3 linked regions of the Homo sapiens genome follow. The protein of the gene in region 1 purifies or fractionates together with the protein of each later gene. This does not show direct contact. Each region holds a gene or a part of one and is shown on either strand. Other genes may lie near its edges.

Evidence for each region.
Region 2: the proteins of KAT2B (region 1) and TADA3 purify together in Homo sapiens (affinity purification with mass spectrometry; 10 studies listed by BioGRID and IntAct, with this or other methods). This does not show direct contact.
Region 3: the proteins of KAT2B (region 1) and SUPT3H purify together in Homo sapiens (affinity purification with mass spectrometry; 7 studies listed by BioGRID and IntAct, with this or other methods). This does not show direct contact.

Annotation. Positions count from the first base shown.
Region 1 is NC_000003.12:20,046,799-20,050,451, forward strand, and holds part of KAT2B (histone acetyltransferase KAT2B), read left to right. Parts: intron 1-3,653. UniProt on the Homo sapiens protein: Functions as a histone acetyltransferase (HAT) to promote transcriptional activation. Has significant histone acetyltransferase activity with core histones (H3 and H4), and also with nucleosome core particles.
Region 2 is NC_000003.12:9,782,406-9,786,058, reverse strand, and holds part of TADA3 (transcriptional adapter 3), read left to right. Parts: intron 1-633; coding exon 634-743; intron 744-1,845; coding exon 1,846-2,031; coding exon of another isoform or gene 2,032-2,035; exon of another isoform or gene 2,036-2,933; intron 2,934-2,950; exon of another isoform or gene 2,951-3,047; coding exon of another isoform or gene 3,048-3,078; exon of another isoform or gene 3,079-3,653. UniProt on the Homo sapiens protein: Functions as a component of the PCAF complex. The PCAF complex is capable of efficiently acetylating histones in a nucleosomal context. The PCAF complex could be considered as the human version of the yeast SAGA complex.
Region 3 is NC_000006.12:44,951,367-44,955,019, reverse strand, and holds part of SUPT3H (transcription initiation protein SPT3 homolog), read left to right. Parts: intron 1-412; coding exon 413-525; intron 526-1,602; coding exon 1,603-1,710; intron 1,711-3,653.

The sequences.
Region 1 (3,653 bases):
GCTCTCACCCAGGAGCTATTTAACCTCCCAAGGGACATTTGACAATGTCTGGAGACATTTTCAATCTTTGCAGTTGGGAGGAGGGAATGCAACTGGCAACTAGTGAGTGGAGGCCAGTAATGTTGCTATACATCCCACAATGCACAGGACAACTCCCCCCAACGAATGATTATCTGGTCCAAAATATTAATAGAATTAACAGAAGTTGAGAAAGCCTGTTTTAGACAAATACCTTTGCAGCACAGAAAGAAAAAACATCAATGGTTTTTGTTTTGCCCCCCCCTTTTTTTTTTCTGAGGCTTTTTTGAGGCAGGGTCTTACTCTGCTTCCCAGGCTGGAGTGCAGTGGGCTCAGGTGGTCCTCCCACCCTAGTCTCCCAAGTAGCTGGGAGGCTACTTGGCCAGGCGCACGTCACCATGGCCGGCTAATTTTTGTATTTTTTATAGAGATGTTTCGCCAACCTGGGTTTCGCCATGTTTAACAGGCTGGTCTTGAACTCCTGGGCTCAAGCAATTGGCCTGCCTTGGCCTTCCAAAGTGCTGGGATTACAGGCATGAACCACCACGCCTAGCCTAAACCAATGCTTTTAATATGAATATGACTAACACTTAAAATCTGAAAAATCTCACTTCGTGAATCATGGGCATATATTTTAAACAGCTTTATTGCGGTATAATTTATAGATCATAAAACTTGCCCACTGTAACTATGCTGCTTTTGAGTTAATGTATGCAGTTGTGCATCCATCACCACAACCCAGTGTTATGACTTCTTCCATCCCCGAAAGTTTCCTCTTGCCGTGAGTACCTTTTTTTTTTTTTTTTTTTGAGACGGAGCCTCACTCTGTCACCCAGGCTGGAGTGGAGTGCAGTGGTGTGATCTCAGTTTACTGCAGCCTCCACCTCCCGGGTTCAAGCAATTTGCCTGCCTCAGCCTCCTGAGTAGCTGGGATTACAGGCAAGTGCCACCATGCCCTGTTAAATTTTTTTGTATTTTTAGTAGAGACGGGGTTTCACCATGTTGGCCAGGCTGGTCTCAAACTCCTGACCTCAAGTGATCTGTCTGCCTGCGCCTCCTGAAGTGCTGGGATTACAGGCATGAGCCACCACACAAGGCCCATGAATACCTTTTTAAAGTGATATTTTGTATCAAATTGGTTGTTGGTTTGCAAACAGAAACTAAATTAGAAATATCTTTTTGGCAAGGCTTCAGATAGGCAATATTGTCACAGCAAAGTACAAAGCATGGAGGGAGGTGGATAAGATGTTGTTTTAAAAGATCAGTCTTTAGCCACATAAGTTTATTGCATACAATTGTATCCTGTGGTGACTTCTCTAAAATGCGGTAAGTGTCATAAAGCCAAGCATACAAAGGAAAAAATGTTTCATTTGGCAGGCACAATACAAAAAGCCTGAGAGAAAGATGTCCAAATTTAATTCTGTATCCTCAGAAATTTTCAGGGAAGATGGAAATTCAAGCCTGCAAAGCCTTCAGATTGCAATTTGTAGTTTTATATAACTGAGAAAGTGTTTTACAGGGCAAAACAGCAAAATCTGCTGAGGACTGTTTTGTTTTAGGAAGTGTGTGCTTGGAAATAGCGATTTGTGATATAGCGCTGTTTAAGGTTTTTGTTTTGTTTTGTTTTTAAAAATCATCTGGCAGATTTAAACCCAGTTGCCTCGGTGTTAGCCAGATTTAATTCTGCGGTTGTTAAGTAAATCCATAGGGTCTGATCCATCATGGTGACTATGGAGGGTGAAATATAAACTTTCCTGTAAGATGCCTGGGAGCAGTCAGCACATCTGCTTCTCAGATGAATACTCCGTGTAGTGCCAATAAAATTAGGATTTTCAAGGCTCAGTGGCTTCTGATTTAGTTAGTCTGTCGTTAAGAGAAAAGTGGCTATTTAGGAAAAATTGTCAACAGTTTCCTACTCTTGCATGCTGCTTTTCTGCTGTGGTCATCTGATTCAAACGGGGAATTAGAACAGGCACATTGGCTACTCACACATGGGGAGAGAAGGAGGGGAATCCTTGCTTCTTTCCCTCTATGCTGGGTGCCTTTGGGCAGCGCCCCCCTTTTCTTTTTTTTGAGACGGAGTCTTGCTCTGTCGCCAGGCTGGAGTGCAGTGGCGTGCACTGCAACCTCCACCTCCCAGGTTGAAGTGATTCTCCTGCCTCAGCCTTCCGAGTAGTTGAGACTACAGGCCCCCGCCACCACGCCCGGCTAATTTTTGTATTTTTAGTAGAGACGGGGTTTCACCATGTTGCCCAAGATGGTCTCGATTTCTTGACCTCGTGATCCGCCCACCTTGGCCTCTCAAAGTGCCGGGATTACAGGTGTGAGCCACCGCGCCTGGCCGGGCATCGCCTTAACTGCCTAGTTTCAGTTTCCTCCTTGGTGAAGTAGGAGTCCAGGTGCCACCTCATTGACTTATTGTGAAGATTAAATACTTCAGGATATATGAAAGTTCTTGGAACCTAGGCATTCCACAAATGTCTATTTAATTTTATTTGTAAAAAACGTTCCATTGGTATTAGCAGTTTGTGTGTTTGCCAAAGTGTTATGTCTCACGACATTTGATTCTTCTACCCGGGGAAAGTGGAAGGTAAGGGAGTTCATTTTACTAGCAGGGAACTGAGACTCAAAGAGGTTAAGTGACTTCTTCAAGCTACAGTGGTTACTCATGAAAGCGTCTGCCCAAGTAGATCCTCTTTCCTATGCACCATTTTGCCTCCTCTTCCAAAACTTTCGCATGGGGTAGAGGGGGTCGCTTTTCTTCCAAATGGTTTCTTGAGAGGATTACATTTGTTTTAGGCATTCTGCTGTCGTTTGAAATTTATTGTACTCCAATTGAGAGGTATGTTCAAAGGATTTTCTAGTCCATTGAACCTGTGCAGGCCATAAAGTAAACAAAATAAGCATTCTTTATTACTGGCCCAGGACAGACATATACATGCTCTTGATTGTTTTAAAGTTGACAATCAAGACTGGTCACTGTGCTGGCCCAATAGAATTCTCTGTTGAAGAAAGATGAAAGAGACACCTACTCAGGCTATAGAAGGTGCCAAATGTGTCAGAAAGTTAAGAAATTGACTGTCTTGAAAGTTTAGAAGTCCAGCTGGGCACCGTGGCTCCCCCTTGTAATCCCAGCATTTTGGGAGGCTGAGGCAGGCGGATCGCTTGAGCTCAGGAGTTCGAGACCAGCCTGGGCAACACGGTGAGACCCGGTCTCTACTAAAAATACAAATATTAGCAGGGCGTGGTGGCTTGCACCTATAGTCCCAGCTACTCAGAAGGCTGAGGTGGGACGACTGCTTGAGCCCAGGAGGCAGAGATTGCAGTGAGCTGAGATCATACCACTGCACTCTAGCCTGGGCAATGGAGTGAGACCCTGTCTCAAAAAAAAAAAAAAAAGATTTAGAAGTCCCCCAACCAGTTTATATAAGACGGTTCACACAACAGTATCTCAACATGATAAAAAGGAGTCATTAAAAAAAACTTTTAGTTGCATTACACATAAAGGGCTCAAATCATGTTTATAGCGCAATTAATTTTTACATGTGTATACATCTATGCAACTGCCACCTAGATAAAGCTGTAGGACATTTTCAGCATCTCAGAGGGTTCTCTTGTGCCTCCTCCCCACTCCT
Region 2 (3,653 bases), about 10 Mb from region 1:
GCTGAGGCAGGAGAATGGCATGAACCCAGGAGGCGGAGCTTGCAGTAAGCCGAAATTGTGCCACTGCACTCCACAGCCTGGGTGACAAAGTGAGACTCCATCTCAAAAAAAAAAAACAAAACAAAACAAGGAGGAGTGTGTGAAGGAAACTTTTTGGCCCATGCCTAGCTATGGCTCTTATCTCTTCTGATCACTTTCCCCTGGAGAGAACTTGTCACATGACCATACCCGCCTGCAAGAGAGCCTGGGAAGTACAACTGGACAGGCATTGCCTAGCTGCCGTGGAGGAAAGAAGAGTATGGCATTCGGACAGCTAGCATCTCCGCCACAGCAGGCCTAGCACACTGCCTGGTGCGTTGCAGACGCTTCACAAACCTTAGCTGTTCATTACCATCATTGAGTGTTAATCATTTCTCTTCTGTGTTCCTTTTTCTTCACATCAGTACGAAAATAAAAGGGATTTCTAGAATGATCAAAGCAATTTGGGATTGGTATGGGAAGGCTTCCCACGGTAGGTGGGATGGGAAAGATAAAAGGATATTTCTGGTGTTTGAAGACTGTCAGTGTAGGTCAGAAAGGAGCAGGAAAGTGGAACAGCTATTTTTCCTTCCACTCATTTTTGTGGTCTTCTAGGAAAATATTATTTCCCCTATGGAGGATTCTCCTATTCCTGACATGTCTGGGAAAGAATCAGGGGCTGACGGGGCAAGCACCTCCCCTCGCAATCAGAACAAGCCCTTCAGGTGAGTGGTGTCCTATCCACAACCCACAGTCTGGCCCCCGCTTCTGTTGGCTTCTCTCCATCTCAACCTGGGGAAGTCCTCATCAGTAAGAGGCTGGGGGCAGTTAGGTGAAGCCTAATAGCAGTCTCAAGTGTGAGTGATGACCCAGCGTGTCTGCATGCACAGACTGAGTGCAGGGTTGTTCAGCACAGAACTGTTCATACCATAAATAACCCAAATGTCCTGCTGAAGGGGAATGGTTGGCTAAATTGGCATAACTCCATATGATGAAATAACTTGGGGCTATTAATCATATAGCTGCAAGTATAGAGAAATATAGTTAAATGACATGAAAAGATGTAAATTATAGAGTGACAAGTGGAGAAAATATTAGTTGTAGCCCAGTATGGATGGTATAATACTATTTTTACTTAAAATATATTTCTTTTTTTCTTTTTCTTTTTTTTTTTTTGAGATGGAGTCTCGCTCTTGTCGTTTAGGTTGGAGCGCAATGGCGCAATCTTGGCTCACTGCAACCTCCGCCTCCCAGGTTCAAGCGATTCTCCTGCCTCAGCCACCAAGTAGCTGTGATTACAGGCGCCTGCCACCATGTATGGCTCATTTTTGTATTTTTAGTAGAGACGGGGTTTCACCATCTTGGCCGGGCTGGTCTTGAACTCCTGACCTCAGGTGATCCTCCCACCTCGGCCTTCCAAAGTGCTGGGATTACAGGTGTGAGCCACCATGCCTGGCTTACTTACAATATATTTAAATATGTGCACATAAGGGAAAAAACCTGGACTAATATGTAGCAAAAGATTAGGAATAATATATAACAAAATCTGGAATATATATAATAATATATAACAAAATAATAGTAATTCTCTCTGGGTTGTTGGCATTATGGGTTTTTCCATATTTTTTGAATAGTAGATACATACGTTGCTTGTTTTAAAAACCAGACCAGATGTGTCTGTCCCTCCCTTTGTATCTGGATAGATACAGAGGGGGTGCCCAAAGGGAAAGGCAGGTTTTCACTGACCTTGGGAAGCCCTGGGAACCTCCAAGGTGGGCCCTTCTCCAAGCTGGCTCTTGAGTCTGACGGGCCTGCCTCCCGCTGCAGTGTGCCGCATACTAAGTCCCTGGAGAGCCGCATCAAGGAGGAGCTAATTGCCCAGGGCCTTTTGGAGTCTGAGGACCGCCCCGCAGAGGACTCCGAGGATGAGGTCCTTGCTGAGCTTCGCAAACGGCAGGCTGAGCTGAAGGCACTTAGTGCCCACAACCGCACCAAGAAGCACGACCTGCTGAGGTGAGCGTTAGCAGGATGCACAGTCCCGGGGGTGGCCTTGGAGGCTGTGGCCACGGCTAGTCACCTTTCAGGGGTTTTACAACAGGCTTTCCAATCCTGGCTGGCCTCTAAATCACCTGGAGAGCCTCGAAAAAAACAGCAGTGGCCAGTCCACCGGGTATGTCCCAAACAAATTCTGATTCCACAGAGTGGGGCTCAGGCATCTGTGACTGACCGATTGATTTGATTTGTTTTTGTTTTGTTTTTTTTTGAGAGGGAGTCTCGCACTGTCACCCAGGCTGGAGTGCAGTGGCATGATCTCGGCTCACTGCAAGCTCCGCCTCCCAGGTTCATGCCATTCTCCTGCCTCAGCCTCCTGAGTAGCTGATACTACAGGCACCCACCACCACGCCCAGCTAATTTTTTTGTATTTTTAGTAGAGACGGGGTTTCACCGTGTTAGCCAGGATGGTCTCGATCTCCTGACCTCGTGATCCACCCGCCTCGGCCTCCCAAAGTGCCGGGATTACAGGCGTGAGCCACTGCGCCTGGCCTAGTTTGGTTTTTTAATTATGGTAAAGGCATAATATAAAATGTATCTCCATGGGAGGCTGAGGCAGGAGAATCAGTTGAACCTGGGAGGCGGAGGTTGCAGTGAGCTGAGACTGCACCATTGCATTCCAGCCTGGGCAACAAGAGTGAAACTGCATCTCAAAAAAAAAAAGAAAAAAAATTTACGCTTCTTAACCATTTTTAAGTGTACAGTTTAGTAGTGTTACCCATATTCACATTGTTGTGTGATTTATTTTTTGTCTTTTCATGCTTCTTTTCTTTTTATCCCCAAAGTTTTGTTATTAAAAATTTGATACACACAGAAAATCTGAAAGAATCATACAATAAACATCAGTATATTCTCCACCTAGACTAATTAACTGTTAACATTTTGTTGGAGATCTGTGATTTTTATTTGCTCATCACAAGAAATTGACCAGTGTTTTAGGACATGTTCTTTTGGGAATCCATCACAGTGCCTGCCATTCATTTGATGTCAACTCCCATCCATCTTGTTCTGCATTGATCACGAGGGTATAGGTGACATCTTGAGGAAGACTGTGGAATAGCTACCCTTTAGGTAAAGAGATAGGGAAGCAACCCGAACAAGTCTCTTTGCTTCTCACAGACAAGTGCTGTGTCTTAACTTCATAGAGCCCTGACAGGACAGGGCACATTCATTCATTTGGCCTTTTTTTTTTTTTTTTGAGACGGTGTCTCACTCTGTTGCCCAGGCTGGAGTGCAGTGCCATGATCTCGGCTCACTGCAACCTCCGCCTCCCGGGTTCAGGCAGTTCTCCTGCCTCAGCCTCCTGAGTAGTTGGGATTACAGGCATGCACTACCATGCCAGGCTAATCATTTGGCCATTCTTACTGTCTCTTAGATATTGTGCTGGGGGCCAGCAAGAGAGGCAGAGCAAGGGACTTGCAGATTACTAGCAGATGATCAGTAAAGATAAGTGCCATTAAAAGGAGAGGTAGTTGCTGACAAGCTGCCAGGGTATTTAAGGATAAGAGTGACTAATGTATGCTGAGGGCCTACTGTGTGTCAGGGGCTTTATGTACACTCTCTCAAGTGTCTTGACAACAACC
Region 3 (3,653 bases), on another chromosome or scaffold:
GGTTCTTTCTTGCAAGATTTTCTTTCTATATGAGTAAATTAAGGTTACATCAGACAAGAACATCTTCTGACTTCTTGTTGTAACATGAGCGGTAGCCAATGGTAAATCTGACAGTGTGAGAAGTATTAAACATTAAATGCTTTAATATACTATGTCATATAGCATAGGTGTAAAATAAAAGACCCAAATACGTAAGAGAGTTGTTGAAAACAACCATTGTGTTGCCTTATAACTGAGAGTTAAAACTTGGATTTCTTGGGGCCAGAATATCTAGACATTAATTATGCATTTTATGTGCATTATTTTTTGTGTACAATTCTGAGTATACTTTTTTAATTTTGTGATAGTAATGTGCAGTATTAAAACACTTTAAAAATTAAAATTTCTGCACTTGTTTTTTTTAAATGGCCAGCCAAAAAAGCTTCCAAATTTCGAGACTGGTTGGACTGCAGCAGTATGGAGATAAAACCCAATGTTGTCGCAATGGAAATCTTAGCATATTTAGCGTATGAAACTGTGGCACAGGTAAGAATTCTAATCTGTCATATCGGGCCACACTGGCTGGTTTTTCTTTATCTCTGCCCATGATCAATTCTTCTTCTCCCTGCTGCTCTACCAGTAATAACAGCCATGAATTCTCTCCTGTGGCATTTACATCATTTTCTAAAATTTAGTTCAGTTATGTGTCTCTGCATCCTCAATTCAAGTGGATGCTAGGATAAAAAAGAGTTCTTGTACCTTTATCTTAATGAGAAATGGAATCCCTGCATGCTTTTTCTTGACATTGAACTCAAATCCACATCTGCCTTGTTTAGAGATTATTTTTGAGCTTTGAAAAACACCTTTCTACGTATGTGAGAATTTAGGAGTACTTACCAAATTCTGGGTCTGGAATCTCGCCCTCTAAAAGACTTTCTCAAGATGTGGTCTTTAGACCACAGGCATCAGCATCTCCTTGGTTCTTGTTTAAAATGCAAATTCTGGCCAGGCGCGGTGGCTCTTGCCTGTAATCCCAACACTTTGGGAGGCCGAGGTGGGTGGATCACCTGCAGTCAGGAGTTCAAGACCAGCTTGGCCAATATGGTGAAACCACATCTCTACTAATAATACCAAAAAAAAGTTAGCCGGGCATGGTGGCGGGCACCTGTAGTCCCAGCTACTCAGGAAGGCTGAGGCAGGAGAATCATTTGAACCTAGGAGGCCGAGGTTGCAGTGAGCTGAGGTCGCACCATTGCACTCCAGCCTGGGCAACAAGAGCGAAACTCCATTTCAAAAATTAATAAAATAAAATAAAATAAGCAAATTCCTAGACTATATGCTTAAAACAGACCTACTGAATTAGAATCTCTGGACTTAAAGCCCAGAAATTTGCACTAGTGACTGTGAAATAAATTTTGAGAACTACTCTCCTAAAAAGTCAGAATATATCATGACTAGGTCCATTCACCAGTCAATGAAAGTGTGTGCTCATGTCTACAATATAGATTTTTAGGCAAGCAGGATTATCAGTAACATTCAGAATGTATTGCTTTTAGGTTTGCCACTTCAGTGGCATTCATGATTATTTCTAGCTATGTGACTTTCATTCTTCTGGTCTTCTAGTTAGTGGATCTGGCTCTTCTTGTGAGGCAAGACATGGTAACCAAGGCAGGGGACCCCTTCAGCCATGCCATTTCTGCAACCTTCATTCAGTATCACAACTCTGCTGAGGTAAGTACAAAAAAAATCTGTCTTAAAACATTTGTGAATTTTGACACATATCTGGTATTTACATTAGTGATTCTTTAATAAAGATTATGCAGGAGTGTATAACCTTCAGTCAAAGAATCTTAATACATTAGACATTCAAATAAGTATTTAATTGAGCACCTACTGTGTGCCAGGCCCTGACAGTCCACTTAAGACAATGACTTTTTTCACGTTTTTCTTGCTTCACTTAGCTTTCCTACCCCTTCATTGAAAGGGATAGTTGCAAGGCATTTCTTATTTTTATGGGAGATGAAAAACTGGTTTAGGTAATGTTGGAAAAGTCATTTATTTCTTTGTGCTTCAAAAGATAAGAGGGTTATCATTATTATTCACAAAATAATCCCTGGCATTTATTGATAACTTTCCATTTCAGTTATTGATTCATCTCTAAAAATGATTTAAAGAAGCTTGTCTTCATTCATCTTGAGTTTTTAGATTGCCCCTACTATGTGAAAATTATATTCTTTTCTGATCTGGCTTTGCTATGGGAACCGTAAAGTTTTCTTTCCAATTTTAAGGCTCTGTATAATAACTGTGCACCACTTTTAGTATACAGAATCTCCTCTGTAAACAGCATCTACCTCAAAACCAGAAATGTATTGCAGTGTCTTGAATGTATTTGCCAATATTCGACCCTTTTCACTAACAAAAACAGCAGTTTCACGTAATTCAATCGAATATCCATAGATAAGACAGCAAGAAGGTTAAGTTCGCATCTACATGTAGAGTTGTGAAGTACGTTTTGGATCAAGTTGGTTGAAATATATAACCTGAAAATGGCTAAGCTCTGTTTTATAGCCATACCTTGATTACACATTTCTACTCCTTGTTAAATATCTATAGGCAAGGATAGTGGTTCAAATCATTTCTAAGAAGTAGTTGTAATCTTCTTTAGGTCACACACCCCTTTGAGAATCTGATGAAAACTATAAACCCTTTTTCTATAAACACATTCACAAATTTTGCCTACAGTTTCAGATTGTTCAGAGACATTCTGAAGCCATTCTATGGATCCAAGGGATCTGTGAACCCTATGGACCCTAGGTTTAAATTTCTCTGCTCTAGGATACATAGAAAATATGTTAACATATATGCCCATATAGCATCTTATTACAAACAAAAGGACAATTCAACATTTTCTTATGCCCCTTGGAAAATCAAATTGGCTTGGAAACCAAATAGGGATTAAAATGTTTATGCCCATTAAAAATCCATTTTTTTCTTAGAAAAGGTCATACATCATTATCAGTCAACATACAAAAGTCCCTAAAGCTTACTTAGTTGATTAATCACTATTTGTTTTCTTTATGTTACAAACCCAAATTATGATGTCAAAAAACCCCCTTTAAAATGTCTTTGATGTTTGTTCACTTTATGAATATGTGTATAAGTATGCTTTCCATTAACATCAGACAAATTTGTTATAACATTTCTAATTGAGAAAATTTACTGTGAACACAACGGGCCTAGTTTTCTTTTAACATTCAAGTGATTGCTTGCATGCCTAGGAAAACTCTTTATTTCCCCTCTTTTCTTGGTTCTCCAGGGTGGCCAAGCTGCCCTAGGCAACTGCTCAGCAACCGCAGCCGCTGTTCCCAGCTACCCAGCAGTTGAGAGGAATATCCTATATGTGCTGGATTTCCTGGGCTCTCTGGGAGGTGGGAGCATGAGTGTCAGAGAGCCTCCTGACAAAATATGTTAGTATAAGCCTCAAACTTTTTTCTGGCTGGCAGACACCCCTCCCCTCCTGTGACTGGTAGTCAAGATGAATATTCAGAGACTGGAAGTCTTCCTTCCTGCCCTTTATCACTTGACAAAATCAGCAGCTAACATCAAGGGCCTGTACATCAAATACTATACCAAATTGAGTCCAAAGTGGGACTCTGGAGACTGATGTGATCTCT